Linked DNA regions of Homo sapiens. The main gene of each other region encodes a partner of the protein of the gene in region 2 in a complex. Each region holds a gene or a part of one and is shown on either strand. Other genes may lie near its edges.

Region 1 (7,000 bases), on a different chromosome or scaffold from region 2:
ATGATATATCACCCAATACCCGCTAAGATGGCTATAATAAAAATAATAAGTTGGCAAGGATGTGGAGAAACTGGAACTCTTGTGCATTACTGGTAGCAATGTCAAATGGTGCAGCTTCTGTGGAAAATGGTACGGTGGTTCTTCAAAAAAGTTAAACATAGTATCACCATATGACCCTGCAGTTCCACTCCTAGGAATAAACTCAAAAGGACTGAAAATGGGCACTCAAACAGGTACATGATATACCTGTTCACAACAGTGCTATTCACTATAGCCAACAGTTGGAAACAGCCCAAATATCCATCAGTGTATGAGTGGAGAAAAAAATTGTGCCTATCCATACAATGGAATATCATTCAGTCATAAAAAGGAATGAAGTACTGATACATGCTGCAACATGGGTAAACCTGGAAAATATTATCCTAAGTAAAAGGAGCCATACACAAGAGGTCACATATTGTACCATTTCTATAAACGATTAAGAACAGATAAATCCATACAGCCAGAATGCCAACTGCTGGTTGCCAGGTGCTGTGGGAGGTAGAATGGGGAGAAACTACTTAATAGGAAAGGAGTTTTACTTTGCAGGTACGGAAATGTTCTGGAACTAGACAGAGGTGGTGAGTATACAACCATTTATTACACTTAGTACTGTAAATGTGCTAAATGCTCCTAAATTGTTCAACTTAAAATAGTTAATTTGGCTGGGCCCAGTGGCTCATGCCTGTAATCCCAGCACTTTGGGAGGCCGAGGTGGGCAGATCACCTGAGGTCAGGAGTTTGAGACCTGCCTGGCCAACATGGTCAAACCCCATCTCTACTAAAAATGCAAAAATTAGCCAGGCATGGTGGCACATGGCTGTAATCCCAGCTACTCGGGAGGCTACGACAGGAGAATCGCTTGAACCTGGGAGGCAGAGGTTGCAGTGAGCTGAGATGCACCACTGCACTCCAGCCTGGGTGACAAGAATGAAACAACATCTCAAAAAAAAAAAGAAAAACCCAATTAATTTTATGTTATGTGAATTTCTCCTCAATAAGTTATTTAAACAAAGTAAGATAGTAAGTGTTAATGAGATAGTGGAGAAACTAAAATCTTTATTATACTGCTGTGTAAGTGTAAAATGGTACAGTACTTTGGAAAACAATCTAGCAATTCCCTAAATAGTTAAAACACAGTTAATGTATGACCCAGCAGCCCATTCCTAGGTATATACCCTAGAGAAATGAAAATACATGTCTATACAAAAACCCAAACACAAATGCTAATAGTGGTATTATGCATATATGCCAAAAGTAGAAACAACTAAAATATACATTAGCTAATAAATGGATAAAAATACTCTCATATAACTATACAATGGAATATTATGTTCTAAAATTGTGGTGAGTATTGCACATATCTGTGAATATACTAAGACCCATTTAGTTGTGCATTTTAAATAGGTGAATTATAGAGCATGTAAACTGTATCTCAAGACAGTGGTTAAAAAATGTTCTCAGTAATGAAGACCTATCTTTGCCTTTACAATTCCAAATGGTACTCACCTTTGCCATCACATAAATGGCACACATTAATAACTGGTCCAGATGTCTGTCCATCATAAGTTCAGGACACTGAATTATGGAGAATTCAAAGCAGGTCCAGATTTTTTTCCTCAATTCATCTGAAATATCTAGTTTGGCACAGAGATCCCGAAGGCGGACAGCTGCTAAATGGTATACCTAGGAGATAAAAACATTTCAAACTTTGTTTAACACTTGTATTTCCCAAGCTCATGCTCTGATAAGGTATGTGAAAAATTACCTTTCTAAAGAAAAGCGATAAAGAGCTGGTCTTCCTGGGTCTATTACTACTGCTGGTTACAGACTGGCCTTGCTTCTGCTGTTGGCCACCTGGGGAAATCTGTTGAATGGCCACTTGACCAGGGACTTGCAAAGTTGTTCCTGTCACCTGTTGAGAGCTCAGACTTCCAGCCAGGGCCTGAGCACTGAGGGGCTGGATGGAGCCTGTCACAGCTTGTGCCTGCCCCCCAACATTGACTTGGACAGGGAAGAATGTTATCCCTCCATTTTCATTGGCAATACCTAGTGACAGAGAAAAAAAGCATGAAGAAAATGTTGATAATAAGAGGTTCTCCGGGCAGAGGTTTACAATTTCTGCTCTCCCAAACCCTCTCTCCCCATCACTCCTCTGTCCCCTATGTCACTCTAGCCAAACCTCGGGTAACTTTTCAATACATGCCACAGAGAAGGAACTCAATATCCAACTCTGCCTTCCTTACCTTGCACAGGAATGGTTACCGTTTGCCCATTGTTGGCTGTGACAGTGGCGGTTGCCATGGTGACCAAAGTCTGTCCAGGAACTGGTGTGACAGAAACAGTCTCCCCAGATACATTCTGCACAGGGACAGCATTGACTAGGGGCTGTGGGGGCATGCGCCCAGGCGTCCCTCCATCAGAGGGGCTATCATTCTCAACAAATAGCCGCCTTCTGGTAGTGCTGGCTGGTGGGGAGCTGTACCTATCGTATAATGTGGTTGGAGATGTTATGCCTAGGGTCAAAACAAATCAAACAAAGCATTTAACTCAAGGAGACTCAGATCTGACTTCCGTCCAAGCTCTTATGTTAAAAAATAACTACAGTGTTTGAAATACTTCATAATTCAAAAAGCAAACAAGAATTACAGAAGTCATATCTTACCTATATTCATTAGTGAACTTTCATTCGTGTTCAGTGAACACTACTGAGAGCAAAATTTTAAAACGGAATTTTTTGTCTTGCAGTGTTCCTTTCTCCACGCCCCCTTTCCCAAATCAGACCTGACTCTGTCTTCCACTACTAAAGAACCTTCATGATTTAGGGGCAATTTAAGGAATTACCCTATTTTTCTATATTATATTTTTCTATAATATTTTCTATCATATCCACTTTCTACCTACCACTCATGTAAGATGTGATTTTACTACAGAGCCACTACTTGATAAGGGGACCTGATTGGTAGTATGTCATCTAGGAGCATTCCGCCACCGGTTTTATCAATTTTGATCTCTGTCTTTTTCCACATATAAAAAATTATTAAAACTCAATAATGTTCTTAAGCAAGGTGGACATGCATGATTTGGATTCAGTTAAGCATAATTTATTTTTTTAAAACAGTTTATATACCATAAATTTCATCTACTTAAATTATACAATTCAATGGTTTGGGGCAAATTGTTACTATTTTTTTTATTTTTTGAGACAGAGTCTTACTCTATCACCCAGGCTGGAGTGCAGTAGCCTGATCTCGGCTCACTACAACCTCTGCCTCCTGGGTTTAAGTGATTCTTGTGCCTCAGCCTCCCAAGTAACTGGGATTAGAGGCATATGCCACAAGGCATGGCTAATTTTTGTATTTTTAGTAGAGATGAGGTCTCACCATGTTGGCCAGGCTGGTCTCGAACTCCTGACCTCAGGTGATCCACCCGCCTTGGCCTCCCAAAATGCTGGTATTACAGGCTAGTTTTTTAAAATTGTGGTTATATATATAACATAAAATTTACCATTCAACCATTTTTAAGTGTATGATTCAGTGGTACACAACCCATTATGGCTTAGTCTATTTTTAAGTATTCACACCAATGTCTGAATTTTTGAGAAGCATTTCTTCCTTCTTCTGTGTCCACTTCTAAGAGCTGTGCATCAGAGTGTTTTTAAAATTTAAAATATACATAGAAAGTTTGTAAGAAGTACTGATAGGAGTAAATCCTAACAAACTGTGGCTTAACATTTCTATTTCCAGATGATACAAAAGTAAATAAACTTACTAGATTTGTATTTGGTACAAAGCTGCAGAATCAGAAAGAATAGATTATGATCATTTTTTCTTATAAAATATCAAGAGATCTCAGGAAAACTGAGAAGTGGTAAGTACAAAGAAAATGAAGTTTAAAGTCAAGTCTTCCTAATCTGTAGATTAGGGAACGGAAAATTCTACAAAAATAGACTAAGAAAGACCAGCTGTCAGATCTTTCAAAAATGAGGACTTTTCATAAGGATCATCCATGTGTATTAAGTATACACTTAGAGTGATTTTTTTGGGGGGGTTGGGGGTAGAGATGGTATCTTGCTATGTTGCCCAGGATGGTCTTGAACTCCGGGGCTCAAGTGATCCTCCCCACTAGGTCTCCCACAGTGCTGGGATTACAGGCATGAGCCACCATGCCCAGCCTAGAGTGAATCCTGACTTTAAAACTGGTATTCCTTCTATAGCCAGTTCTTATCAATTACATTATAAAACTGATCTAGAAATAAGAATATTCTTTTAATTGGATCCAAGGATTTAGAACTCTCTGGATTTACTGAATTGCTCTTTAAAAAAGTAGTTCTATCTCACATATGTAAACTAAAACCTTTCACCTTGCAGATCTTCTAAGCAGCTGCCTAAAAAATACAAACCAGATAGATAGCAAAACTGCCCTTTTCTGTATTTCTTGGGCCAGCACTAATGTCACATTAACTAGGGTAGCACAGCTCAACAAAGTGGAACATACTCAGTTGTCTTAACTCACTGGCTTGTCTATACCTAACTGGATCATGCAGCTCTATCTTTAAGAAGGCTTTTCTATTTCTGATTTTAAAAGTAATATGTATTTGCCTTAAAAATTTTACAGAAATCACCAGGAATTCTATCACCCAACAATGATCTTAACAGTTTGGTTTTTCCATTTCCACTATTTTGTATGCTCATAAATAAACATACACTTTAAAAATAGGGATCATATTAAATATACAGCAGTCAGCCGGGCACGGTGCCTCATGCCTGTAATTCCAGCACTTTGGGAGAACGAGGTAGGCGGATCACTTGAGGTCAGGAGTTCAAGGCCAGCCTGGCCAATATGGCAAAACCCCTTCTCTACTAAAAATACAAAAATTAGCTAGGCGTGGTGGCGCATGCCTGTAGTCCCAGCTACTCAGGAGGCTGAGGCATGAGAATCGCTTGAACCCGGCAGGCAGAGGTTGCAGTGAGCTGAGATTGGGCCACTGCACTCCAGCTTGAGTGACAGAGCAAGACTCTGTCTCAATAAATAAATAAATAAATAAAGCAGTCTATCCTTTTTAAAAGATACCTGTTATATCATGCATTTTCCTGTGTTCTTAGTCTTTAAAGGCCCTTCTTTTAAGTGATCCATGTGGTACAAAAATGCATAGAATATTTTCTTCTATGTATACCCTATTAACTTCACTTGTAGGGTTAGATGAAATTTAAATTTCCAGATAGTAAGCCCCAAAATATTCTCCTAGTATTTTAAACTTACTCCTTCCAAGTCCTCCAGTATCAGCACGAACTTCAGTCACCCTTCTGGGAGTCAAAGGGGAGCCAGCAATGCAAATTTCATCTGCCCTTTCCAGGTTCTGAGGTGGCATGACCTATGAAGAATTGGTTACACAGAATGCCAGTATCCAAAAAAGCACTTTAATTACAAATACAATAGTAATCTAAGGCAGAAAAAGTATCTTAACAATTATTCCATCTAAATAAAATCAGCTGTCTTTCCCATTTTAATAATAAAGTTAAAAAAAAAACTTTTGGCAGTCAAAAAATTCAAAACCTTGTAATTGGATACTAAATATGAGTCAAACTTCATTACTGGTTTGGAGAGTTTGAATATCAACCACTCTAAAGCAGGAGTCCCCAACCCCTGGGCCATGGACCCTGTTAGGAACTGGGCAACATAGCAGGAGGTGAGCAGCAGGCAAGTGAGCATGCGAGCAAAGCTTCATCTGTATTTAAAGCTGCTCCCCATCGCTCACATTGCCGCCTGTGCTGGCCTCCTGTCAGATTAGTGGTGGCATTAGATTCTCACAGGAGTGTGAACCCTATTGTGAACTGCACACATAAGGGATCTAGGTTGCATGCTCCTTATGAGAATCTAATGCCTGCTGATCTGTCACTGTCTCCCACCGCCCCCAGATGGGACCATCTAGTTGCAGGAAAACAAGCTCAGGGCTCCCACTGACTCTACATTTTGGTGAGTTGTATAATTATTTCATTATATATTACCACGTAATAATAATAGAAATAAAGTGTGCAATAAATGTAAGGCAGTTGAATCATCCCAAAATCTCTCCAACCCCCAACCCTGTCCATGGAAAAATTGTCTTCCATGAAACTGGTCCTTGGTGCCAAAAAGGTTGGACCACTGCTCTATGGGAAAGAAACTTGGTAAGGAAATCAAGAAAGAACACTGAATTTTTACTCTGTCACCAAAATCTTAGGACAACCACAAATTATCTGACTCGTTTCCTCTTTGACATGGGGTGAAATGTGACAGGTCACCTACCTTACTTAAGGGTGTATGTCTGCTGCCTAAACCCTGAAGGCTAGGCAGTGAGCCAAGGCCATGGTGCCCAGCCAAGGAACAGGTGTCCCTGAGAACCCCAACATCCCAGAGAAGATCTGAGAAACTACCAAGGAAAACAGTCCCATCGTGCACACACATAGTAGGCAAAGAGCCAGAAAATTAGCTTAAAAGCAGCTTAGCGATGGGAGGTGGCGAGGATCTCTAGAGCTGTCCTGCTGCTACCTAGGAGTACCCTGTATATAAGTCTTTTATTTTTCCCCACCACCTCTGCCTCCTCCATATGTAAGTCTTAATAAACGTTATCTACTTACCAAGCTGGACTTGTCTGAGTCATTCTTTGGTCTCTTGGCACCTTCCCAATTTGTGGGTAGAGAGGGACGTTACAGTCCAAGATTTTTCTCATAACAAGGTGTAATTATAACATATTAAACCTAATTGCCACCCTCCCATCCCCAAAAGGATTATTAATAGATTAGATATTGATGTATTTTTCTCATAAAAAGATGTTATTTTCACAAACCTCTTCACATGTAGGAACTCTGTTTTCATTGTCTCTAATTTTTTCCCAGAGTGGAGACTCTGGTTTCCATGCCAAATGATCTAAGATCTGTTCTTCAATCTGATTAAGGTGTTTTACCACCTCTCTACAAAG
Region 2 (8,289 bases):
TTACAGTCGCATGATCTCGGCTCACTGCAACCTCTGCCTCCTGGGTTCAAGCGATTCTCCTGCCTCAGCCTCCCGAGTAGCTGGGACTACAGGCACATGCCCCCACGCCCAGCTAATTTTTGTATTTTTAGTAGAGATGAGGTTTCACCATGTTGGCCAGGCTGGTCTCGAACTCCTGACCCCTCAGGTAGTCCGCCTGCCTTGGCCTCCCAAAGTGCTGGGATTACAGGCATGAGCCACCATGCCCAGCCAACAGTGGTCATATTAATTTGAAGGTGGAGGGGTAGGATAGTTCAGTGGTGCAGTCTAAGATTAAGAGGCATACACCACTTGGTAGACTAATGAAAGCTCGTTGTGAACAACAGTATATCAATGAGGCAGATCAGATTCCAATTTGATGGGCAGCCAATTAATGAGACAGACACACCTGCACAGTTGGAAATGAGGATACAATTGATATGTTCCAGCAGCAGACAGGAGGTGTCTACTACAAAGGGAACCTGCTCTTTACTGCAGAACTCCATTCCCACAGACCAGGAATACATTCTCAGAAAACTACAACTCCGTTGAATTCCATCCTGACTACAAAAGTGTAGGGTTTTTTTTGTCCTTTCGTGTACCCCTTTCTCATTCCTTTACTGTGCATAAAGTGACTGGCATTTGTGCACAAGCATATTACCTTTTTATTTTTAAACTAAATGGCCAATGATATGTTTTGATCAACATCAGATGGAGATAAGATGGGGATAAATACTGATTCTGTGGCAATGCCCCCTTTCTCCATTAGTGGCATGCTCATTCAGCTCTTATCTTTATACTTCATTAAGTTATTTTGCCTCATCATTTAATAAAAATCAATAACAAAAAATCCTTCCATGCTTGAAGCTAGTAGTTCAAGATCCTGTCTCCACAAAAAAAAAAAAAAGAAAAAAATTAGCCAGGTATTGCATGCCTGTAGTCACAACTACTTAGGAGGCTGAGGCAGGAGGATCACTTGAGTCCAGGAGGTTGAGGCTGCAGTGAGCTATGGCTGCACCACTGCACTCCAGCCTGGGTGACAGAACGAGACCTTGTCTCTTATAAAAAAAAAAAAAATCCTTCCATACCTTGTTAAATTTGAGAATTTTGGTGTTTTTCACGTGTCATTCTAAAACCAACCAGTTTTTAAACTCTTGTACATAGCTGTTACATGTAGGGCAATATGTCTTTAAGTAGGGATAAGTTACTCTAAAAGAAATGAATCTTAGATAGTTTTCCCACCAGGCATCCTATTGCTTAAGTAAACTTTCTGTTTGAAATGAAACAAATAGTTTTACAGTAGCTAGCATTTATTGAATGCCTGTGTGACTTTGTATTAATCCTACCTTGAATGAATGAGGAAAGGAGCTCAGAAAAATAACTTGGTAATTTGCCTATGTGGCCCAGGGTCAATGTAAGAGCTGAAGTCCTGCTCTTTTCACAATATTACATTGTCTCCTTTGTTTCCTGGCCACTCATATTACAATCTCCTAAAAGCAACCTGTTATTGCTCTTCTGAATATGAGAAACCCAGTGGAAAGTAATTTGTCCCCGCTTCACAAACATTTTTAATTATGTTGAGGCATAGAAATATTTAAAGTAGTTTGCATTGGAATTGAAAAACTGAACTATGAGTTTCTTCCACTTCATTAAAAAGTTTCTTAAAATTTACATTGTTCCCTACATAAAAGCTGAGCAGAATTTTATCAGGCAATTGCCTCAAAGTTATAATCTGGACAATCTTTCTGTAATAAAACCCATATGTCATTGGGGAAAGGTGCAGAGCCCTGGCAGAGAGGGCTGGTCTTGAGAGAGGTTCTGCACCCAATCTCGTTAACCAGGGTGCCTCTGGTAATCCCTCATCCCTCACCAGTGAGAAATCAATCTGTACCACTGAATCTTTTTCAACCAGCCACCAGAAAAATTTACTGCAGAGAAGGCAGTTTGGGGATAGTTATCGTGGAAAGTGAGCCAGAAGCAAGGCTAAATGTAGGATGGAGGAATTGGAGAGTCTAAAGAAGAGATTATATTAAACCACACACCACTTTCAGAGCAGGCACAGTGGAGTCCTCCTTTCAGCCCTGACCTCTCCAAGTATACCCAGGTATTTACAGCTGCCATGAACTGGATAGCCCTGGAGGAACTACGAAAGTGGTGGGGGATAACAGAAACAGTGGAAACCTGAAAGTTGATTGTAGTCTATCCATTTGCTGTCTCTCAGTGTGTAGTAGCCAGTCCCCTCTCCACACTCTGCAGCATTTCACATGTTAACCCTATAGTGACAGTTTCAATTGTGGCTTTCTCAATTTGTGATCTATGTACGACATAATAGGGCCTGTAAATCATGACTTGACATAGGGGTCATGCTTCTCTCCTGCACGGCATACACCAGTAGCTGATGACCAGTGGGCCCCTCTTGGCATAGTTATTAGAATGGAAGCGGTGTTGCCTTCCTGTGAAACCTTGTAATCTTAGAGAATAAATCCAGAATCAAAAAAATAGTTGACAGGCTGGGCGAGGTGGCTCATGCCTATAATCCTAGCACTTTGGGAGGCCAAGGCGGGCAGATCAACTGAGGTCAGGAGTCCGAGACCAGCCTGGCCAACATGGTGAAAACCTGTCTGTACCAAAAATACAAAGAATTAGCCAAGTGTGGTGGTGCATGCTTGTAATCCCAGCTACTTGAGAGACTGTGGCAGGAGAATCACTTGAACCGGGGAGGCAGAGGTTGCAGTGAGCTGAGATTGCAACATTGCACTCCAACCTGGGCAACAAGAGCGAGACTCTGTTTCAAAAAAAAAGAAAATAGTTGACAGATTTCACTGACTCTATATAACACTCTCTCTCTCCCAATCTTGTTGTGTCTAGAATTGTTTTCTATATAATATAATACATTATGGGGAACAAAGAAAAAGGAGAAAATGGAGGAACTGGGAGTGCCAAGCTGAAGAACATGTAGTCTTACTCTGGCCATTCATCCTAGAATTATACCAAGCTACAACCATTGTGAAGAAGAAGGGACAGAACCAGGCAGTGGGGAATAGAAATGGCTTTCTCTTCTCTGTAAGCAGGCAGTAGTCATCTCTAAAGATTTTTCCCCAAAGAGATTTGAAATTCCTGATGGGAGCTTAAAAAGCTAAGAGTAAAATACATTTATTTATAAGACCCTACTAGAAGAGGTGTGTGTGGGTGTGTGTGTGTATGTGTGTGTGTGTGTGTGTGCGCGTGTAGACGAGGAATACAGAATAGTAGCAGAAGGCTGTCTCCCTACTCCTAATGGGATTTTGTAGCAGTATGTGCAAGTTTGTTTCAGAAGTCAAAAATGAACAGATGTTAGTATAAATTACCTCTGTGTCTGATGTCTTGCAAATTAAAAGCGCAGTTGGCATCACTAAACAATTTCACTAGGTTTGGGGGGGTTCGGTTAGCGGGCGGTGATTACTGTAGCAGGTCGGTAAGAATCTTCGCCCTGCAGCAGAGCAAGGATAAAGAAATGAGGAATAAAATAAGGGCTATATGAATTAATCAGAAATGTTAACATCTCTGATGACAAGTGAACAGGAGGGCACGTGCTCTGGAGCAGCCCCTGACCCACAGCAATTTCTCTGTGCACAAAAAGGGGTTGGTGCTTAGCATCTGATTTATAGGGCACAGCCCTCTTTTAGGGAGCGGCTGTGTCATACATTCGTATATCTCCTGTATGGGACTGGCGAGTAGGAAAACTTTCTCTCCTCCCATGTAGGAGATGATGTCTTTTGAATTACTTCTACTTTTACAGTGGTTTCCTGCAGCTCTGTGTACTTGGATTAGGTTGAAGGGGGAGGAATGATTGAGTAGAAAAAGGGTTGTTAAAAAGGATTGGTTAAATTCAAGGAGAGCTTGCCACTGAGAGACTTCAGAATATCTATTTATTTTTCCTTTTAAACCCTTTTGACCCCTTAAATTGTGTGGATCTTTTAAAATTCTAAGTCTTAAAATATTGGTCATTTTCCCATTTGGGGAAAAACAGTAAGGAGTTGGTGAGTCTGAAGGTCAGCAGGCAGAAATCATTGGTTAGAGCAATGCAGTGCTCCAGGCCCAGGATTTTTGGAACAAGGCTCTATTCTCTCCAGAAGACTTTTGTATTGACCGTGTCTGGTTTCCAGAGCTCCTGCTTCTAGCCATGTTGCAGGATCATTAGTTACATGTTTAAACTTGAGAGTAGACAGATAACCCATCTAGTAGAAATAAGTGAGACCCAATCTGCCCAAAAGTATAAGTAAATTTCTTTTCCTTCAAGCTGAGGGAAAAGATTCCAAGGAACGGAGTTTTGTTTGCTAGCCTCCCTTTGTGCAGTTTGTTCATTCATTCATTCATTCATTCACTCACTCAGAAAATACTAAGTGCGAGAGAACTTACCCCCCTCTGGAAAGTGTTGTGTTAATGATTAGCACTATACCAAGCATGTTCATTGCTAATATCCAAGAGAAAAGTAGGGTATTAACATGCTCTCCGTTACAAATGAAGAGACTGAGGCTCAGAGATCTGCCCAGCCCAAGGTGTCACCCTGCTGCTAAGTGCTAGAGCTGAAACTTAAACTGAGTTCAAATCCTGTGTTCTCTGCAAGAAGCCCATGCTACCTCCTATGGGCAAGACAGTACTTGATTGGATTTTCTCTAGAGTAGTTAGTCCTTGACCCCAGTCTCTCCATGAACTTGGCATTATTTGCATTAAGGGAAATGATTTTCTTGCCAAATAAGCAAGGCACATTTAAAAAGACTCCCATCATGTAGAGAATGGAGCACTGAGGGCCACTAACTAGTCATATTTGTTAATGGAAAGGAAGGAAACTAACATTTTTTGCATTTCTACTTGGTTCTAGTTCTTTGGTGTATTATAATTTATCCAGTCAACACTTACTCAGCAGACACTAGGTCTGCTGAGTCTGTAGCAGGTCGGTAAGAATCTTCGCAGTGCAGCAGAGCAAGGATAAAGAAATGAGGAATAAAATAAGGGCTATATGAATTAATCAGAAATGTTAACATCTCTGATGACAAGTGAACAGGAGAGCACGTGCTCTGGAGTTTGGATCTGATTGTGGATCTTTTGCCAAGGGAGAGAAGACCAAAGCTCTTAACAGTCTCTGCCTTCAGTTTTTACATTTTAGTGGAGGAAGACAACCATATAAGCTAGTAATTGCATGCAAGTCTTATGGGAACTTTCTTGTACAGGATTTGCTGTAAATCCATGAAGGAAGGAATGGTCTGTTTGATTTGGTCTGGGTTGGGGTTGTGAGCACATGAGGCAAGACCCAACACTGGGCTTCTATGCCTAGTTAATGGAATTTCCTTTCCCTTTGTTGGGGCACAGGAACTAGTGAAAGATGGGGAATGTATAGACTGAAGTTACAAAAGCCTCCCTGTGGTCCCAGAGGTTGTGTAGTTTTTATTTCTTCATTGTACAAGAAAACAAGAAACTGTTAAACTTAAATTGGGGCAGAGGGGAGCTGGAGGCCATTCATCTAGCTCCATTTGCTCTGGACTTGGGAAAGGCAACAAGGAGGCCAGGGTGAAGGTCCTTCTCATTCCTGAGAGTGCCTCCCTAGCCACCTCACTTCTTTGGCCAGGACGGAGATGTGTTCTTGGGAGACCACACAGCCTACCCCGTGCCTACTGCATGGTTCCAGAAGGCCTGGCTTCCAGAGCCAGCCATCAGCGATCAGAAACTTTCTGCACTGTTAAATCCATTTAAGAAATCTGAAAACATGGCCTTGCAGGATGAGGATGAGGATGAGGAAGGGGCTGTTACACTACGTATGCTTTCTGAGATCTAAAATGGGAGACCTCTGGAGTAGCCCTTGTAATTGAGAAATGTTTTACTTTCATTTTGGAGCCTTATATGTAGGAAAGTAGCTGTATAAACCCACTTGTAACTATAGCATTCAAAGATTGATGGTGCTGAAAGCCGGAGAAAGACACATAAACCTTGGCTGGCTATATTAAATAGCTAAGGACTGACAATGCCAAGGGAGAGAAGACCAAAGCTCTATAAACCCTACTTTATGACACCATCCACAGATGAACTGCACTGAGGGAATATAAACCCTGTTATATTACAGTATCCAGGGACTAACACTGCTGAGAGATAGGGTAAATGATCTCTAATTTTGATTTGAGATTATAAATGTCCAGAGACCAGCAACCCAGAGAAGACTAATCTTGGTTGGATTTTAGGCTTCAAGAGCAAACCCCCTGAGATAGTGAACATGAGTATTAGGTTAGATTCTAGAGACAGAGATAGGTTTTGGGGGAATCCCCTGGTGATTTGTTTAAAGGTGGATGATAAAATCTTTCCCAGTCATTTGGCATGTATCTCAATTGCCAACTTCAGAATAGCTTTGTACAGTTTTAGTTGTCTATAGTGGTTTGTTTTTACCCCCTTTTAGGTTAGTTGGTGATGATTGAATCTGTTGTGATAGCAACTTGATATATAATTTAAATCAATCTGCATTTTTAAATTAAATCTTCCTATGATTCTTTTTTCCGATTTTAGGTTTTCATTGATCATTTGTTTGCTTTGTGATTCCAGCCAGAGAGATGACACGGGGGAAATTCCTCAATATTCTAGAGAAGCCCAAGAAGTAGCAGCTGCTTGCGGACAGGATGTCCTGGGGTCCGAAACCAAGCTCCCTTCCCGGTGCACCTCTAACAATGCACACCTCACTGCTTGCTTGGGAGAGGCCAGAGGGTGTACCTCCAGGACTGCCCTCTCCCCTGCTCCTGGCACTCTACACGTCTGAGGACATTCAGCAGCAAGAGAAGAATCTGCTCTACCCAAGGATCATTGCAGTTACTCAATCAACTTTCAGACTTGAACCTTCTTAGCCTCGGATATTGGTAACAGCTGAGGGCATATCATTCTTAAAGGTCGAAGTCCTGCTTTCTCATTTCTGGAAGTGATTCAGGAGCCCCAGGATCTTACGGTTGATTTGACTCAGTCATGGCAGTCAGTTGTGACATGTTGATTGGATGGGTTCTTTTGAATTGTTCTTGATCTCTTAGAAAGTGTTTACGATGTGAGGAGACCAGAGACCAAGTAGATTCTGGACCAGACCATGCAGCCTGACCTGTGAACTCTCCAGTATATACTAAGTTCCCAGAATCCCCAGCTGAAGAAACCAGAATCTTCTCGAAATGTATATCTGTTTTTTAAAACTTCTATACCTCTTATGATAGTCCCATTTGCTTTTCATTCCTTACTTCCCAGCCCCACCTTCTAGTTCTGACTTCGGGCAGAGGGATCCCTGAGTCCCTCCTGGAATTAGCTTGTATAGTGAAAGGCCCATCCAAGGTTGTCTAAAGACCAATGTGAAGGTGACAGAAAGGACTTTTGAGTTCTAATTAATCTGTTACAGCTTCAAGCAAGAAAGTCAGTATAGCCTGAAAGACAAGAGAAACGGGATGGTTTATAGGAGTTCCCATTTGGTTGAAAGCTAGAAGCCCTAATTGACCTTAAAGTAACATGCTATGGGATGGTGGGATTGTCCCCTCTGACAGCACATATGAAATAGTTCATCTATATAATAGAAACGCACACACACGAAAAAGAATCTTCTGACTTAAATACAACTTTCATGGAGTTCTTCACCACTTATCTGTCTCTGTTAAAATCTGAAAATCTAGCCCATGGCTAAAATCTATTATATGTGTTCTCCATATTTCTTGTATAAGCCAGTCCCCAGCATCTGATGTTTTGAGAAGTGCATGGAGTTTCCTAAACTTTGCACAAAAGAATATCCTGGGGCCGGGCATGGTGGCTCACGCCTGTAATCCCAGCACTTTGGGAGGCCGAGGCAGGTGGATCATAGGTCAAAAGATCGAGACCATCCTGGCCAATATGGTGAAACCCTGTCTCTACTAAAATACAAAAATTAGCTGGGCATGATGGTGCATGCCTATAGTCCCAGCTACTTGGGGGCCTGAGGCACGAGAATCGCTTGAATTCGGGAGGTGGAGGTTGCAGTGAGCCGAAATTATGCCACTGCACTCCAGCCTGGGCAACAGAGTGAGACTCTGTCTCAGAAAAAAAAAAAAAAAAAAAAAAAAAAAAAGAATATCCCTGTGGCAATAGTCTGATGGTGTTTGGACACAAGAAAAGTTATGGTTTTGAGTCGTGAGTGTTTGCTAGGGCATGGCACTCTTCAGTTTAACAGCTGATCCATTAAACCTTTTCTGACATTTGTGCCTTGTTCTCATGCTAGAATTAATGCTGGATTTTTCTCTCATTTGACCA

The links. The genes of interacting proteins can lie anywhere in the genome.
Region 1: LIN52 (region 2) and RBL2 share a complex: the UniProt entries of both Homo sapiens proteins name them as parts of the DREAM complex.

Annotation. Positions count from the first base shown.
Region 1 is NC_000016.10:53,465,471-53,472,470, reverse strand, and holds part of RBL2 (retinoblastoma-like protein 2), read right to left. Parts: coding exon 6,869-7,000; intron 5,414-6,868; coding exon 5,302-5,413; intron 2,556-5,301; coding exon 2,286-2,555; intron 2,089-2,285; coding exon 1,808-2,088; intron 1,726-1,807; coding exon 1,549-1,725; intron 1-1,548. UniProt on the Homo sapiens protein: Key regulator of entry into cell division. Directly involved in heterochromatin formation by maintaining overall chromatin structure and, in particular, that of constitutive heterochromatin by stabilizing histone methylation.
Region 2 is NC_000014.9:74,192,337-74,200,625, forward strand, and holds part of LIN52 (protein lin-52 homolog), read left to right. Parts: intron 1-249; exon of another isoform or gene 250-941; intron 942-6,585; coding exon 6,586-6,641; 3' UTR 6,642-8,289.